3 separate regions of the Homo sapiens genome follow, and all the other regions are linked to region 3. Evidence: fine-mapped expression QTL. A gene starts in region 3. Each other region holds a variant in brackets. All regions are shown on one strand. Distances are between the middles of the regions. Region 1 overlaps PALB2 (partner and localizer of BRCA2). Region 2 overlaps GGA2 (golgi associated, gamma adaptin ear containing, ARF binding protein 2). Region 3 holds the start of EARS2 (glutamyl-tRNA synthetase 2, mitochondrial).

Region 1 (5,000 bases), 73 kb after region 3:
TTGTAATCCCAGCTACTATGGAGGTTGAGGCACGAGAATTGCTTGAACCTGTAGGCGGAGGTTGCAGTGAGTGGAGATTGGAGATTGGAGATTGCCCCACTGCACTCCAGCCTAGGCAACAGACTCTGTCTCAAAAAATAAAATAAGTTATTAAAATTGACTCAAGAATAAATTCCGAAACAGAGCATAGGTATTACTATGCATCCTTTATAGAAAAGGAATCTGGGGCTCAGAGGTTACACAATTTGTCCAAGGTGACATAGCCAGTAACTGGGAAAAACTTTATGTGGATTTGAAGTGTTTTCCTTCACACCAGTGATTCTCTGGGAGAGCTTCTGCACCCCCATCTTCAACCCTACACCTAGGACATTTAGTAATGCAACATTTTCAGTTACCACACTGCACAGAAAAGATTAACCACTAGAACTGCTCCCCATTTTCTTATAAATCACCATAAGTGATTCTTCCAGAAACATTACACCATTTGAGTAGGAGAGGCATGAATAACTCTCATTTCACTCCGTCAAAATGCCTGTTAGATTTATTTTATTTTATTTTTGAGACAGAGTCTCACTCGCCCAGGCTGGAGTGCAGTGGTAAGATCTTGGCTCACTGCAACGTCTGTCTCCCAGTTCAAGTATTCTCTTCCCTCAGCCTCCCTAGCAGCTGGGATTATAGGCGCCCACCACCACGCCCGGCTAATTTTTGTATTTTTAGTAGAGATGGGGTTTCATCATGTTGGCCAGGCTGGCCTCAAACATCTGACCTCAAGTGATCAGCCCGCTTCAGCCTCCCAAAGTGCTGAGATTATAGGGGTGAGCCACCGTGCCCAGCTCCCTAACTTAGATTTAGACATGAAGTTCAGTTACTTAGCCTAAGTTGTTCTTGCCAATAGGTTGGCATAGAAACTTTAAGAGGAGAGCTCAAAACATAAACAGAGGTAAATATTGGGAAAAATAACCAATCCAAATCTGTTTTTCTGAATCTGTTTACCAATATCTTTAATAGTATTAAAGAACAAGAAGCTATATGACTGAATTCTTTTCAGTTCATTAAAGTTTTCATATGTAAGACACGAGACACTGGAAGAGAATATTCTTCTGACCTTTAACTCTGAAACCAATTGTAGGTTGCCTGGGTTTATGCTATCAGAAGCAGGAAGCTCTGCTGTTTCAGTCTGTGAAAACAAAAGTCACATCATTAGTCTACACTTTATGTATAATGTCTGCCTGCATTACCCACTCATCAAAATGTCTACTTCGTATTGTCTTTATTTCCTCTTATAACAGCAGCAAAGCTCCAAATGCAAACTGTTTCACTGATAACAAAGAGAATAGGACCTCCCATATTTAAAAGAAACATTTTAATGAACCTTAATTTCCCCAGAATGAACTTAATGATTACAATGAAATCATATCAAAGAAACACGTCAAACCATTCTTAAACGTGGAAGGCCCAATGCGCAAGCAAGTCATGCTGTTTACATTCACTAAGGCATTTCATTCCTTCAGAGAAAATTTCACAGAGGAAATGGATTGTACCTGTTCGACGGAATGTTTATGCAGCTCCTGGCATGTGTTTCTACAGAGCTGATTTTCTTTAAAAGTGAATGACTCAATGGGTGGAGGTGTTCCTGGCGGGACAGAGTCACAGTCACAGGTAGGTTGTCCTTGCCTGCCTGACACTTGCAGGGTGGTATGTGGTTTTGCTGGGCTGCCTGAACTGTCGAATTGTTTAGTATCACTGGCAAGACAGACTGAGTCTTTCAAATGAGCAAGTTGGGGTGTGCAGCAAGTTCGTCCAGCAACTTCTGTAGATGCTTTTTCATAGGAGCCTTGAGGGCCAAAGGCTGGAGTAGTACCTAAGATGGGGAAAGCAGGTGAACACATGTCTGTGGTAGGCCTGTCATTATCATCAGGCGCAACCGTATTTAAAGGAGTATAAAGTAATATGGATGAAGAAAGGCCCGTCTTTGTATGCTGGCTTTGCGAGTTTGGCCTTTTGGGATGTGATTTTCCTGGTAGAACAATAAGGTCCTCTTCTAAGTCCTCCATTTCTGTATCCATGCGTTTAGGACTCAGTTCCTCTGGAAAAATACAGCTTCCCTCTTTAAGATGTCTCTCTCCAAACATTTTTGACTCAAAGGGCTCCACTGGTTTTTCTGAGCAGGACTTCACTTTTTCAAGCTTAAGAGGTCCAAAGTCTTCATCAGGTAACTGAAAGTCTGTGATACTGAGAAAAGACAGTAGTTGCTTTAAACTCAGCATTCCATCCCTATGAAATGGAGCCGTGAAAGCATCATCATCCAAGGATAAATAAGCACTATTACTCCAAGAAAGGGAATCCTCTTTTTGATGACGACTTTTCTTCCCTAAAGAAGAAAAATAAGTCACAAAATAGTAACAAAACCCAACAAAACAGACAATCTGTTTCACTGATGACAAAGAGAATAGGATCTCCTAGATTTAAAAGAAACATTTTAATGAACCTTAATTTCCCCAGAATGAACTTAATGTTTACAATGAAGTCCTATCAAAGAAACATGTTAAACCATTCTTAAATGTAATACCCAACAAAGAGTGAGCTTCTAAACTCAAATATACTAAAAAATGTTCATTACTTTTCCCATCCATGACTCAGAAACTTGGGCGAAGGGTTCAAACAACGGTCATGAGTTAGTTGATTAATTAGCAGCTATTTTTCTGCACTACCCAAAACAGTGTATTGCTAGCCAGGTATGGTAGCTCACAGCTGTAATCCTAGTACTTTCAGAGGTCAAGGTAAGAGAATTGCTTGAGCCCAGGAGTTCCAGACCAGCCTGGGCAACACAGTGAGACTGTCTTTAAAAACAATAAATAAATAAATAAAAATTAAAAAAAATAAGGCCAGGCATGGTGCCTCACACTTGTAGTCTCAGCACTTTCAGAGGCTGAGGCAGGCGGATCACTTGAGGTCAGGAGTTCAAGACCAGCCTGGCCAACATGGTGAAACCCCGTCTCTACTAAAAATA[C/CA]AAAAAAAAAAAAAAAAAAAAATTAGCCGGGTGTGGTGGCTGGCGCCTGTAGTCCCAGCTACTCCGGAGGCTGAGGTGGGAGAATGGCGTGAACCCAGGAGGCGGAGCTTGCAGTTAGCGGAGATGGCACCACTGCACTCCAGCCTGGGCGACAGAGTGAGACTCTGTCTCAAAAAAAAAAAAAAAAAAAAAAAAAACTAAACTAAAAAAATTAGCTGGGCATGGTGGTGCGTGCCTGTGATCTCAGCTACTCAGGAAGCTGAGGTAGGAGAATCACTTGAACCCGGGAGGCAGAGGTTGCAGTGGGCTGAAACTGCACCACTGCACTCCAGCCTGGGCAACAGAGCGAGATTCTGTCTCAAAAAATAAATAAATAAATAAAACCAAACCAAACAAAACAGTGTATGGCCAACAGTATAAATAAATAAATACATAAATAAATAAAACCAAACAAAACAAAACAGTGTATGGTCAATAGTATTAACTAGGAGAAGGGACTGAGGACAAGTCTCAACTCAACCACTGATTTGCAGTGAAACCTTAGGCAAATCGATTTATTTCATTTTCCCTTTTCTCATTGTCTCTCATAAGGGAAATGAACTAAAAATACCTACATTCTTTCCTACCTCTAAAACTGTGATTTCAACAGGCTGCCAGAGTATGTTCTACAAAATGCTGGCTCTTCTCACTATGGAAAACTTAGTCCCCTTTTGAAGCAAAGAGTAATTTACTGCTTTTTGTTTGCTTGTTTGTTTCAAGACGAGGTCTCACTCTGTTGCCCAGGCTGGAGTGCAGTGGCGAGATCTTGGCTCACTGCAACCTCTGCCTCCCAGGCTCAAGCAATCCTCCCACATCAGCCTCCTGAGTAGCAATTTACCGCTCTTATTGCAAATGGTATCCCACATCATTCAAAATGTTGCTATATCCTCAATGATGAATGCATAAACAAACTGTGGTATATACATACAATGGAATACTAGTCAGCCATAAAGAGGAACAAAGTACTGATGCATGTTACAACAGAAACATACCTTAAAAACATTATGCTAAGTGGCCAGGCTCAGTGGCTCACACCTATAATCCCATCACTTTGAGAGGCTGAAGGCAGGTGGATCACTTGAGGTCAGGAGTTTGAGGCCAGCCTGGACAACATGGTGAAACCCCGTCTCTACTAAAAATACAAAAATTACCCAGGCATGGTGGCAGGCGCCTGTAATCTCAGCTACTCAGGAGGTTGAGGCAGGAGAATCACTTGAACCTGGGAGGCAGAGGTTGCAGTGAACCAAGATTGTGCCACTGCACTCCAGCCTGGGCAACAGAGTGACACTCCATCTCAAAAACAAACAAACCCATTATGCTGAGCAGCCAGACACAAAAGGTCACATATTGTATGATTCCATATATATGAAATACCCAGAACAGGTAAATCCATAGAGATAGAATGCAGATTGGTGGTTGCCCAGGGATGAAGTAGGGGGTCAGGGGAGGAAATGGGTAGCAGCTGCTTAATGGGTATGGGGTTTAGGGGTGATGAAAATGTTTTAGAATGAGATAAGGTGGTGGTTGCACAACACTGTAAATGTATTGACTTGTTCACTTAATTTAAAATGGTTAATTTTGTTACGTGAATGTCACCTTGAGAAAAAAAGTTTTTAAATGTAGCTGCAGTTTACTACAATTATAGCAGACTATTTCAAACTACTGGCTGGGCCTGGTGGCTCACGCCTGTAATCCCAGCACTTTGGGAGGCCGAGGTGGGTAGATCACCTGAGGTCAGGAGATAGAGACCAGCCTGGCCAACATGGCAAAAACCCATCTCTACTGAAAATATAAAAATTAGCTGGGTGTGGTGGTGGGCACCTGTAATCTCAGCTACTCAGGGGGCTGAGGTGGGAGAATCGCTTGAACCTGGGAGGCAGAGGTTGCAGTGAGCTGAGATAGCGCCACTGCACCCTATCCGGGGCGACAAGGGTGAAACTGTCTCAACAAC
Region 2 (5,000 bases), 72 kb before region 3:
GTACAGATGAAGTAAGATTAAAAAAATCAGCTATGAGCTGGTAATTATTAAAGATGAGTGAAGAATATATAGGTTTTACTATTCCCCTCTCTCATGTTTCGAGATTTTCCACAATAAAGAGTTAAAATTCTTTTTTAGTAACTGTGGACAATTCTCCACTTCCTTACAGATGTACCTTCCATTTCCCATCGGCCTGGCCCTCTTAGTTGACCTACCTGGCCCCTGAAGGTACAAAAGCCCGTGATCCCCTTGAGACACCACCCACAGCTGTTTCTCTGGCCCCTGCGATTGGTCAGCTTTTCCTGAAGCCTCCAGTGGGATCTTTCTTCTACCTCTCACACCCCAATCTCCATGGTCAATTTCCACTTCTTTTCAGGCTTTAGACCTGCTGCTGATTTCTTACTGAAGCCTGGATCCTGCTGGAAGTCAGTTCTGAGGCAACTCAGGCCACACCCTCCCCAAGCCCAAGCTCCACGGAACCGAAAGTCCACTCTGTCTTGTTCCTGGCACAGCAGTGTGACAGGAGGGACCGAGTCTGTCTTGCACCTGGGCTGCTAGCTACACCCAAGGAAAGAAAACTTACCGAGTGCATCATCGTCATCAGTGGTGTCACTCGCCAACCGGAACAGCGTGGGCCGCAGCTTTTCACACCTCTCATACACGACCTGAAAGAGCAGAGCTTGGTTCATGACACACGCCCAGGCACCCCATAACGCCCCCCTCCAGGGCCCCAGGAGCCTTCGATCAGGCAGACGGCAGAGTCTGGGGCTTCAGAAGGCCTCCCAATGGTCCTGACTTAGAGACTGCAGTTTTGAAGTAACATGACAGAGTTTCAGAAAAAGACTACAGGCTACAAGTGTATGATTTCTGAAAATAAAATAATCTGACCGGGCAGGGTGGCTCACGTCTGTAATCCCAGCACTTTAGGAGACCAAGGTGGGCTGATCACCTGAAGTCAGGAGTTCAAGACCAGCCTGGCCAACATGGTGAAACCCTGTCTCTACTAAAAATACAAAAGTTAGTGGGTGCCTGTAATCCCAGCTACTCGGGAGGCTTTCTCTTAGGAATTTGGAAAGACAGTAGTTCATTTCTACTAATCTTGTGAAGTGGAAGGACAGGTAAATAAAGAAGTTACGTGGAGGCTGGCTCTCCTCCTGTGCAGAGAGACATAAAAAACTGGAATGCAGAGGGAGATGGCTGAAACAGACCTGCAGAAGGAGGTGGAGAACAGAGTTCCAAGGGAGACCAACAGCATGGCTGCCTCGAACCTGGCACAGACAGGCTGTGGTTTCTTTTTGATTGTTTGTTTTTTTGGTTTTTTTTTGAGACAGAGTTTCACTGTTGTTGCCCAGGCTGGAGTGCAATGGTGTGATCTCAGCTCACCGCAACCTCCGCCTCCTGGGTTCAAATGATTCTTCCTGCCTCAGCCTCCTGAGTAGCCGGGATTACAGGCATGCGCCACCACGCCCGGCTGATACTGTATTTTTAGTAGAGATGGGGTTTCTCCATGTTGGTCAGGCTGGTCTTGAACTCCTGAACTCAGGTCATCCGCCTGCCTCGGCCTCCCAAAGTGCTGGGATTACAGGCATGAGCCACTGCGCCCGGCTGGGCTGTGGTTTCTTAGATGTGATAACAAAAGCACCAGGAAGACATTAAAAAAAAAAAAAGGCCAGGCATGGTGGCTCATGCCTGTAATCCCAGCACTTCAGGAGGCCAAGGCAGGTGGATCACCTCAGGCCAGGGTTCAAGACCAGCCTGGCCAACATGGTGAAACCCTGTCTCTACTGGCCAGGCACAGTGGCTCACACCTGTAATCCCAGCACTTTGGGAGGCTGAGACGGGTGGATCACCTGAGGTCAGGAGTTCGAGACCAGCCTAACCAACATAGAGAAACCCTGTCTCTACTTAAAAAAAAAAAAAAATACAGAATTAGCCAGGCGTGCTGGCACATTCCTGTAATCCCAGCTCCTCGGGAGGCTGAGGCAGGAGAATCGCTCGAACCCGGGAGGCAGAAGTCGTGCGGAGCTGAGATCACGCAA[T/C]TGCACTCCAGCCTGGGCGACAGAGCGAGACCTTGTCTCAAAAAACAAAACAAAACAAAACTCCCGCTTCAAAAGATGCTATCAAAATAGTGAAAAGACAGCCCAAAGGAAGGGAGAAAACTGTCTGATAAGGAACCTGTATCCAGAATATATAAAAAACGCTTGTAACTCAAAAAAGACAATCCAAAAGATGGGCAATGGATTTGCACAGACATGTCTTCTAAGATGCACAAGCTGCCAATGAGCATAGGAAATAAATAAGCCATCAAGAAACAGAAAGTTGCAATGAGACAGTACTTCACACCCTCCAGGAGGACTCCAATCAAAAAGATAACAGCAAATGTTGGCAGGATGCAGAGAACTGGAGCCAATACATTGCTGCTGGGAATGTAAAATGGCATGGCCACTTTGGAAAACAGCTTGGCAGTTCCTCAAAATGTTAAATATGGAGTTACCCCAAGATCCAGCAATTCCATTTCTAGGTATATACCCAAGAGAATTTAAAACCTATGTTCACATAAAAACTTGGACAAAGTTCAAAGTCATTATTCGTAATGAATAATTCAAAGGCATCATTCATAATAGCCAAAAAGTAGGAACAACCCAAATGCCCATCAGCTGATAAATGGAGAAACAAACTGTGGCATAGCCACACAATGGAACGCTATCCAGCCATGAAAAGGAATGAAGCAGTGACACATTACCAGATGGATGCACCTGCAAACATTAGGCTACGTAAAGGAAGCCAGACACGAAAGCCCACGTATTGTGCAACCGCATTTGGACGAAGCATCCAAATAAGCAAATCCAGAGAGACAGAAAGTGGATTAGTGGTTGCCAGGGACTGGGGAAAGGGGAGTTTGGGAAAGGGGGAATGACTGTTAATGGGTACAAGGTTTCTTTTAGGGGTGATTAAGATATTCTATAACTAGGTAGGTGTGATGGTTGCTTTTATGGTATGTTAATTATCTCATAAAGATGCTATATAAAAACCAAGATCTCAAGATGTGGAGGAGCTAGAACTTGCATATGCTGCTGTTAGGACTGTAAAATGGTGCAATCACCCTTGAAGATAGCTTAGCCACTTTGTTTCCTAACAAGTTAAATATATACTTAGCATATGACCTAGTAATCCCAGACATTTACCCATAAGAAATGAAAATCGATGTTCACACAAAATCCCGTACAAAATTGTTTACAGTAGCATGATTCACAATCACCCAAAGCTGGAAACAACGCAAGGCCCATCAACAGGTACATGCTGTGGTACATCCAGGTGACGGGACAGTACCCGGCAATAAGAAACAAGCTACTGCTACACACAGCAACGTGAATGGATCTCGAGTGAGATCCAGAAACCAGGCAAAAATAGAGGGTTATGTACTGCATCATTCCATTTATACAAGAGTCTGGGAGTTGTCAGCCAATCAGAACAGAAAGCAAATTAGCAGCTGCCTGGGGACTGGGGAGCAAGGGACAGACAAAGGGAGGACAAAGCAGCACAACGACATTTGGGGAGGTGTCAGATATGTTTACCGTCTTGACTCTGAGATGGCTTCATGGGTGCAAACAGGTGAAAGCATTTCAAACCCACTTTAGTAAACATGTGCAGCCCCCTGTGTTACACCTGTATTACCTGCAGGGCCTCCTGGTCGGGCGGGGCCTGCCCTGGCCTGCGGTACATGCTCAGCATCTCCTGCAGCACCTTCACATGGCTTCGCACTTCCTCCACCGCACTGACCCTCTTGGACACCTTCTCCGATTTTTCTTGTTCCTTTTGGGAAAAAGAGGAGGATGGGAGTGAGGGAGCAGAAACCCTGGCTGAAGCCTGAACAAGGGATGGGAAAGAGTCACTATTGAGAGAGCTCGCTCAGGGGCATCACCAGGATGTTAAGTGCATGGGAGAACTCACACAGTGGGTGAAAAAATACTCAAAAGCCCAGAGTTCCTGGGGAGGAAAATGCAGTTTGGGGACTGGTGACCATGACCTCTGCCTTTGTGCCACCAGCCTCAAGTCCTCTGAAAAGCAGATTCCTAAACCTGGACTTTGTCCATACCAATACCTGTTGCTGGGACCCAAGCTGGTGTCTAGGAAATGCTTTGAGCAGCATGGATGAAAGCAGCTGAGAAGTACGGCAGCGGGATTTCTGGTTCCAATCACCACCTTGCTGCCCTTGAGGGAGACTATGGCTGTTCCCCAGAGTTCAGGGCTAGGAGCCACTCTTTCTCCCAGGCAACCGTTCCTCTACCCCTCAAGCATAGGCTCATATGCACTGTCCTTCAGCCTCTGTCAAATGCTACTTCTACTGAACCAACTGGAAGAATGCCCACCTCCTTGACCAAATTCTTGATTAACCGGTTTGCAGCCTGAAGGTCCTCGGGGTGGTTGCTCTTTAGAAGCCTTGTCAGAAGCTGCAGAGAGTGAACAGGAAGAGTAGGTGAGACCACAACTCCCTCAGGCCTAGAGCAGAAGCAGCAGCAACAGAAGAGTTAACACTAACAACAGTGCACACATTTTACATGCACCATCTCACCAAATGGTCCAAGGACACTACGATGCAGGCACTCTGACTATCCCAATACACCACTGGTTTTCTTTTCTGTTGTTTTTTTTTTTTTTTTGAGACGGGGTCTTGCTCTGTTGCCAGGCTGGAGTGCAGTGGCGCAATCTCGACTCACTGCAACCTCTGCCTCCCGGGTTCAAGCAATTCTCCTGCCCCAGCCTCCCAAGTAGCTGGGACTATAGGCGCGTGCCACCATGCCCAGCTAATTTTTGTGTTTTTAGTAGAGACAGGGTTTCACCATGTTGGCCAGGATGGTCTCAATCTCTTGACCTCGTGATCCACCCACCTCGGCCTCCCAAAATGCTGGGATTACAGGCGTAAGCCAGCGTGCCTGGCCTGCCACTGGTTTTCAGTGGGGTAGGGGGATGTGGGGGTTACTTCTCCCAGGGGATGTCTG
Region 3 (5,348 bases):
AGCTTTTCCAGAGTTGTCATTACCTCTTACCGTACCTTCTTCGGACCAGCCCACAGCCCTAAGTCTCCACAATGAGCTCATCTACATTTACAAGTACAAGAGGCAGCAGAGGAGAGAAAAAGCTCTTCTGGGGCCAGGCCGACCCTGCTTCAACACTGATGTGTGTAACCTTCGGATAGTTACTGCAAGGACACCAGAAAACCAGTGGTATTCAGTGGCACTGAGTCCCACGAGTCCCCAAGACAAAAGAGGAACCCAGCTGCTGAAAACAAAGCCTCTTACATCAAGTACACCTGGATTCAAATTCTGCATCCACCATTTATTAGTTGCTACCCCTTGAGAAGGAACTCTACTTAACTTTTATGAGCTTCTATTTCCTCATCTGTCAGAGGGATTAAGAGCAAAAAAATAAGAACCTTCTTTATTATAGGGTTGCTCTGAGGTCTAAATGCTGACCAAAGTAAACCCTCAATTAATTTCAGCTACTGTAATGATCTGTGCCTGATAATTCTTTTATCTGTTTATAGTCAAAAGCCTTTCCCACATGGGCTTTCCCCGCAAATGAGCAAGGAAATGAGAAGTACAATCATCATAATAGAGGCTGTGTATTAAGTGCTTTCTGGGTGTACTAGACCTTACTAAGTGGTTCGGCTGCATGAGCTTAACCCCATAAGACAGATATTATTATTAGCCCCGTTTTGACAAATGGTGAAACTGAGGCTCAGATTCATTAAATAATTTGCACATCTAGGCCAGGTGTGATGGCTCACACCTATAATCCCAGCACTTTCGGAGGCCAAGGCAGGTGGATCACTTGAGCTCAGGAGTTCAAGATCCGCCCAGGCAACATGGCAAAACCCCATCTCTACAAGAAAATACAAAAATTAGCTGGGCGTAGTGGTCACACACTTGTAGTCCCAGCTACTCGGGAGGTTGAGGTGGGAGGATCACTTGAGCCCCGGAGGCTGAGGTTGCAGTGAGCCGAGATTGCACCACTGCACTCCAGCCTGGACGACAGACAGAGCCAAACCCTGTCTCAAAATAACAATAATAATTTGCACATCTAGTAAGTTACACATCTAATAAGTGGCCACGACAGAAATTTGGACCCAGGCAATCCCAGGCTTTGGCATTCTACATAAGTGCTCTTCAAAGCAAAGTGTGCAATCCAGTGCTGGTCTGAAAACAGTTGTCAGTTCACAATCAAGTACAGAAACTGAGAGTAAAGGTTTAGAAACTTTTGTTGTTGTTTTGAGATGGAGTCTCACTCTGTCACCCGGGCTGCAGTGCGGTGGCACGATCTCGGCTCACTGCAACCTCTTTCTCCTGGGTTCAAACGATTTTCAGCCTCCTGAGTAGCTGGGATTACAGGCCTGGGCCACATGCCCGGCTAATTTTTGTATTTTAGTAGAGACAAGGTTTTGCCATATTGGCCAGGCGAAACTTACATAGCAATCTGGCAGAATGATTTTACCTCTGCTAACCCAAATAAAATGAGATTGGTTTGTATTTTGGATGTTTTCAAAATTTTATTTTTCTGGTCATTATATTAATTTTGTGCAAATATTGATACACAATTGATTGGAAATTTAAAACCAGCACTTCCACAACAGATGGTTTGAAAGGCACTGCTCTAGGCTATACTGCCTGCCAGAAAGATCCTGTCATGTATAGCTGGGATTTTACTACAAAGATCTTTGTATGTTCATCCTGGGATTTGGGATGAGAGGCATACTCCGTGTAGAGAACGTAGAAGGTAGCCTTACTGGTGGGAACCAAAAGGCCCTGACGAGATCTCCAACAGGCTATACAATGGGCCTCTGTCACCCTCTAGCTTGCTAAGCTCCCAACAGCACTAGCACAGTGCCTTGGTACCTGCGATTTCCTCTACCCAGAAGGTTCCTTCTTTTTTGTTTTTGAGACACAGTTTCGCTCTTGTTGCCCAGGCTGGAGTGCAATGGCGCGATCTTGGCTCACCGCAATCTCCACCTCCTGCGTTCAAGCGATTCTCCTGCCTCAGCCTCCCAAGTAGCTGGGATTACAGGCATGCGCCACCATGCCCAGATAATTTTGTATTTTTAGTAGAGACAGGGCTTCACCATGTTGGTCAGACGGCTCTCAAGTGATCCACTTGACCTCAAGTGATGCACCCACCTCTGCCTCCCAAAGTGCTGGGATTACAAGCGTGAGCCACCGCGCCTGGCCTCCAGAAGGTTCCTTCTATAGGCTTCACATAGCGTGCTCCTTCTTGTCATTTGGATCTCAGCTCAAATGTTACCTGCTCAGTAAAGCCTTCTGGAGCGTCCTTCTTAATCCCCAGTCTCCTATCCTGTTTCACTTCCCGCATGGCACATGTGACTCTAAAATTACACTTATTTTTTATAAGTGTCTGCGGCAGCCACTAGAATGCAGACTTCCACAGAGCAAGGCCCCTACCTTTCTCAATGATCACTGTATCCCAGCGTCTACAACACCTGTTACACAGGTTGTCATCAATGCACATGTATGGAATGCATGAAAAAAAGATCGAAAGAGATGGGATGGCACAAAAAACACAAGAAACTCCTGGCAATTTGAATTATTTCCGCTCCTGCACCTCAGTTTCCGCCTCTGTAAAATGGGCTCGCGCTGCCTTAACCCTCCTCCGCCCGCCCACTCTGACACCACCGGAAAGGATTCATTCGGGAACATTCGTGGGGCGGAGACGGGACAGGGGGCCTCGGCCTGTAGCGTCACGTCCGCCAGGGTTACCTGTGGGGCTGGGAGCGAACCGCACTCGCACCGCAACCCCGGCATCAGTGCCCAGGTTGGCCTCGCGCCGTCCTACGGGGCGGCCAGAGGCCGCCGAAGGCCTCTCGCGCTGCAGCAGTCTCCTCAGGAGCGCCGCCATGTGGGATGGAATAGCACACGTGGGCTTCTCCCTGCGTCACTTCCGGGGACTGCTTCCAGCCAATCGGCCTCCGCCACAGCCAGCGCAGCCTTGCCCCTTAAAGTCACAGGCCCCCTAGCGCGAAATCCCACGCCCCCCTGGACGGCTGCGGCCGCACTCGCCACCAGGGGGCAGAGGCCAGAGAAAGGGCTATTTCCCGGACCCGCCCCCTTCAGCTTGGGAAAGCGAAAGCGTGGCAGGGGCCGGACCTGGGAGCGGAGGAGGCGGGTCTCCATAGAAACCTCCACCTGTTTCCGGCCGGGCTGTGAGAGATTAGGGGCTGCTGCGGGGGCCAATCTCAGCCAGCTCGCCTCTTCCCAGCGGCCTCTGCGGGAGCGGTGGGTGTTGTACACAATCATCATGGCGGCGGCCGGGGCCCCGGATGGTGAGTGCGGCGGGGGTGGCGGGCGCCGGGCCGGGGCTGAGGTTGCGGTCGCTCCTCTGGGGGATGCGGCCCGGCCCGGGAGGGAGAACCGCGGCTCGGGAACGGAGGTCCGGCGGCGCCCGGACAGCGTCCGTTCCCAAGCCCAGCCCGCGGCGAGCGCCCACCCCCTAACCCCCTTGCAGGCATGGAGGAACCTGGCATGGACACGGAGGCCGAGACTGTGGCTACTGAGGCTCCCGCGCGGCCCGTCAACTGCCTGGAGGCTGAAGCCGCGGCGGGGGCGGCGGCCGAGGACTCCGGCGCCGCACGAGGCAGCCTGCAGCCGGCCCCGGCCCAGCCCCCTGGGGACCCCGCAGCCCAGGCCTCGGTCAGCAACGGCGAAGACGCGGGCGGCGGCGCGGGCAGGGAGCTGGTGGACTTGAAGATCATCTGGAATAAGACCAAGCATGACGTGAAGTTCCCCCTGGACAGCACAGGCTCCGAGCTGAAACAGAAGATCCACTCGATTACAGGTAATTCCTGTGGCGCTGACAGCCAGTCTTCCCCACCCCGCCTCCTGATGGCCCTTGCACCCTACTAGGCACCTGGTGGCTTTCCTTGCATCAGGTCCCCCCATCCTTACAGCAGTCTTCTGAAGGATACTTGGATGCCCATTACTCAGCTGGGGAAAGAGACTCAAGTTTATAGAGCTAGTAAGTTGCAGAGCTGGGATTAAAGCCGAAGTCTGACGTTTAGGCCCCAGTTTCTCATTGATGTTGCTCTAACATCTCTAATTAAAAAATCACCTAAGGCGCTTGTTTTACAGCTTCTGGGCCCTTTCCCAGGAGATTCTGATTCAGTGGGTCTGGGATGTAGCCAGGAATTTATTTTTAGCAAATATCTTAGGTAATTCTTCTAAGTGAAGTTTAGGAAACGCTGCTATTGACTTTGATGCTGGTTCTTCACAGTCGATTCTGTTTCTTAATTTTACCTTGTTCATAGCTCTTTGCCATCTGAGATTTCTTTTCTTTTTCCTATTTTTTTTTTTTTTTGAGACGGAGTCTTGCTCTGTTGCCCAGGCTGGAGTGTACTGGCACCATCTTGGCTCACTGCAGCCTCCGCCTCCCAGGTTCAAGCGATTCTCCTGCCTCAGCCTCCCGAGTAGCTGGGATTACAGGTGCCCGCTACCCCGCCGGGCTAGTTTTTTTTATTTTATCCACCCACCTCGGCCTCCCGAAGTGCTGGGATTACAGGCATAAGCCATCACTCCTGGCCTTGAACTTTTTTTTTTTTTTAAAGCTTTCTACATGTAGCCTTGTAATCTCCATTAAGAACAGGAGTTTTGTCCCTATTGGCTTCTGTAGCTCTGATGCCTGTGGATTCTCACTTAATATGTGAATGATTTAGATGACTGAGGAACAACTTGGAAAGAATGAGAGCTAGTACTTACTGAACAATTATTCAATGCTAGCCACCGTACTAAATGCCCCGCATTGGTCTCTTAATCCTTGAAACAGGTCTGTACAGAAGGACTTACTCTAATAAATCTTCTACAGTTCTAGAAACTGAGGTTCAGAGGTTGTAAATCTCCCAAGTTCACAAAGCTAATAGGTGGTGGAGGCAGTATTCACTTTTTGGTCTGTTACCAAAGAGCTGTGTAGTATCCATACATTTTTCTGTCCTTCCTTCCTTTCACTGTCCACCTTCTACCTTTTCCCAAGGTCTCCCGCCTGCCATGCAGAAAGTCATGTATAAGGGACTCGTCCCCGAGGATAAAACATTGAGAGAAATAAAAGTGACCAGTGGGGCCAAGATCATGGTGGTTGGCTCCACCATCAATGATGTTTTAGCAGTAAACACACCCAAAGATGCTGCGCAGCAGGATGCAAAGGCCGAAGAGAACAAGAAGGAGCCTCTCTGCAGGCAGAAAGTGAGTCCATCTTGTGCTTCTTGGTCTTGAGAAATTTGAGGCTTTGTCCTCTTGAGCCGTGGCTGGTTATATTCTCCCTAGAATAAGCTCCTTTTTGGACAGGGCCCATGATGGAAATTTATGGC

What was found. PIP is the estimated chance that this variant, and not a neighbour inherited with it, causes the effect. A credible set is the group of variants that fine-mapping cannot tell apart.
Region 1: its variant is the best candidate, but not a certain one, in a credible set for the expression of EARS2 in whole blood (INTERVAL, PIP 0.53).
Region 2: its variant is the best candidate, but not a certain one, in a credible set for the expression of EARS2 in whole blood (TOPMed, PIP 0.85).

What each region holds. Positions count from the first base shown.
Region 1 is chr16:23,628,099-23,633,098 of GRCh38, forward strand. PALB2 (partner and localizer of BRCA2) reads right to left here. Exons shown (of 13, transcript NM_024675.4): 5 at 1,542-2,371; 6 at 1,106-1,177. Among named protein-coding and RNA genes, the nearest start is that of PALB2, 11 kb to the right of the region's middle. The variant C/CA (reference allele first, on the strand shown) is at 3,011.
Region 2 is chr16:23,482,340-23,487,339 of GRCh38, forward strand. It overlaps GGA2 (golgi associated, gamma adaptin ear containing, ARF binding protein 2), which reads right to left. Exons shown (of 17, transcript NM_015044.4): 7 at 4,371-4,451; 8 at 3,676-3,813; 9 at 584-665. Among named protein-coding and RNA genes, the nearest start is that of GGA2, 26 kb to the right of the region's middle. The variant T/C (reference allele first, on the strand shown) is at 2,040.
Region 3 is chr16:23,554,454-23,559,801 of GRCh38, forward strand. EARS2 (glutamyl-tRNA synthetase 2, mitochondrial) reads right to left here and starts at 2,897. Exons shown (of 9, transcript NM_001083614.2): 1 at 2,752-2,897. The coding sequence starts at 2,890. It overlaps UBFD1 (ubiquitin family domain containing 1), which reads left to right and starts at 3,274. Exons shown (of 7, transcript NM_019116.3): 1 at 3,274-3,314; 2 at 3,497-3,826; 3 at 5,015-5,223. The coding sequence starts at 3,290. RefSeq lists enhancers at 1,582-2,226, 2,587-2,866, 2,871-3,515, 3,057-3,256, 3,516-4,159 and silencers at 3,327-3,416, 3,517-3,696.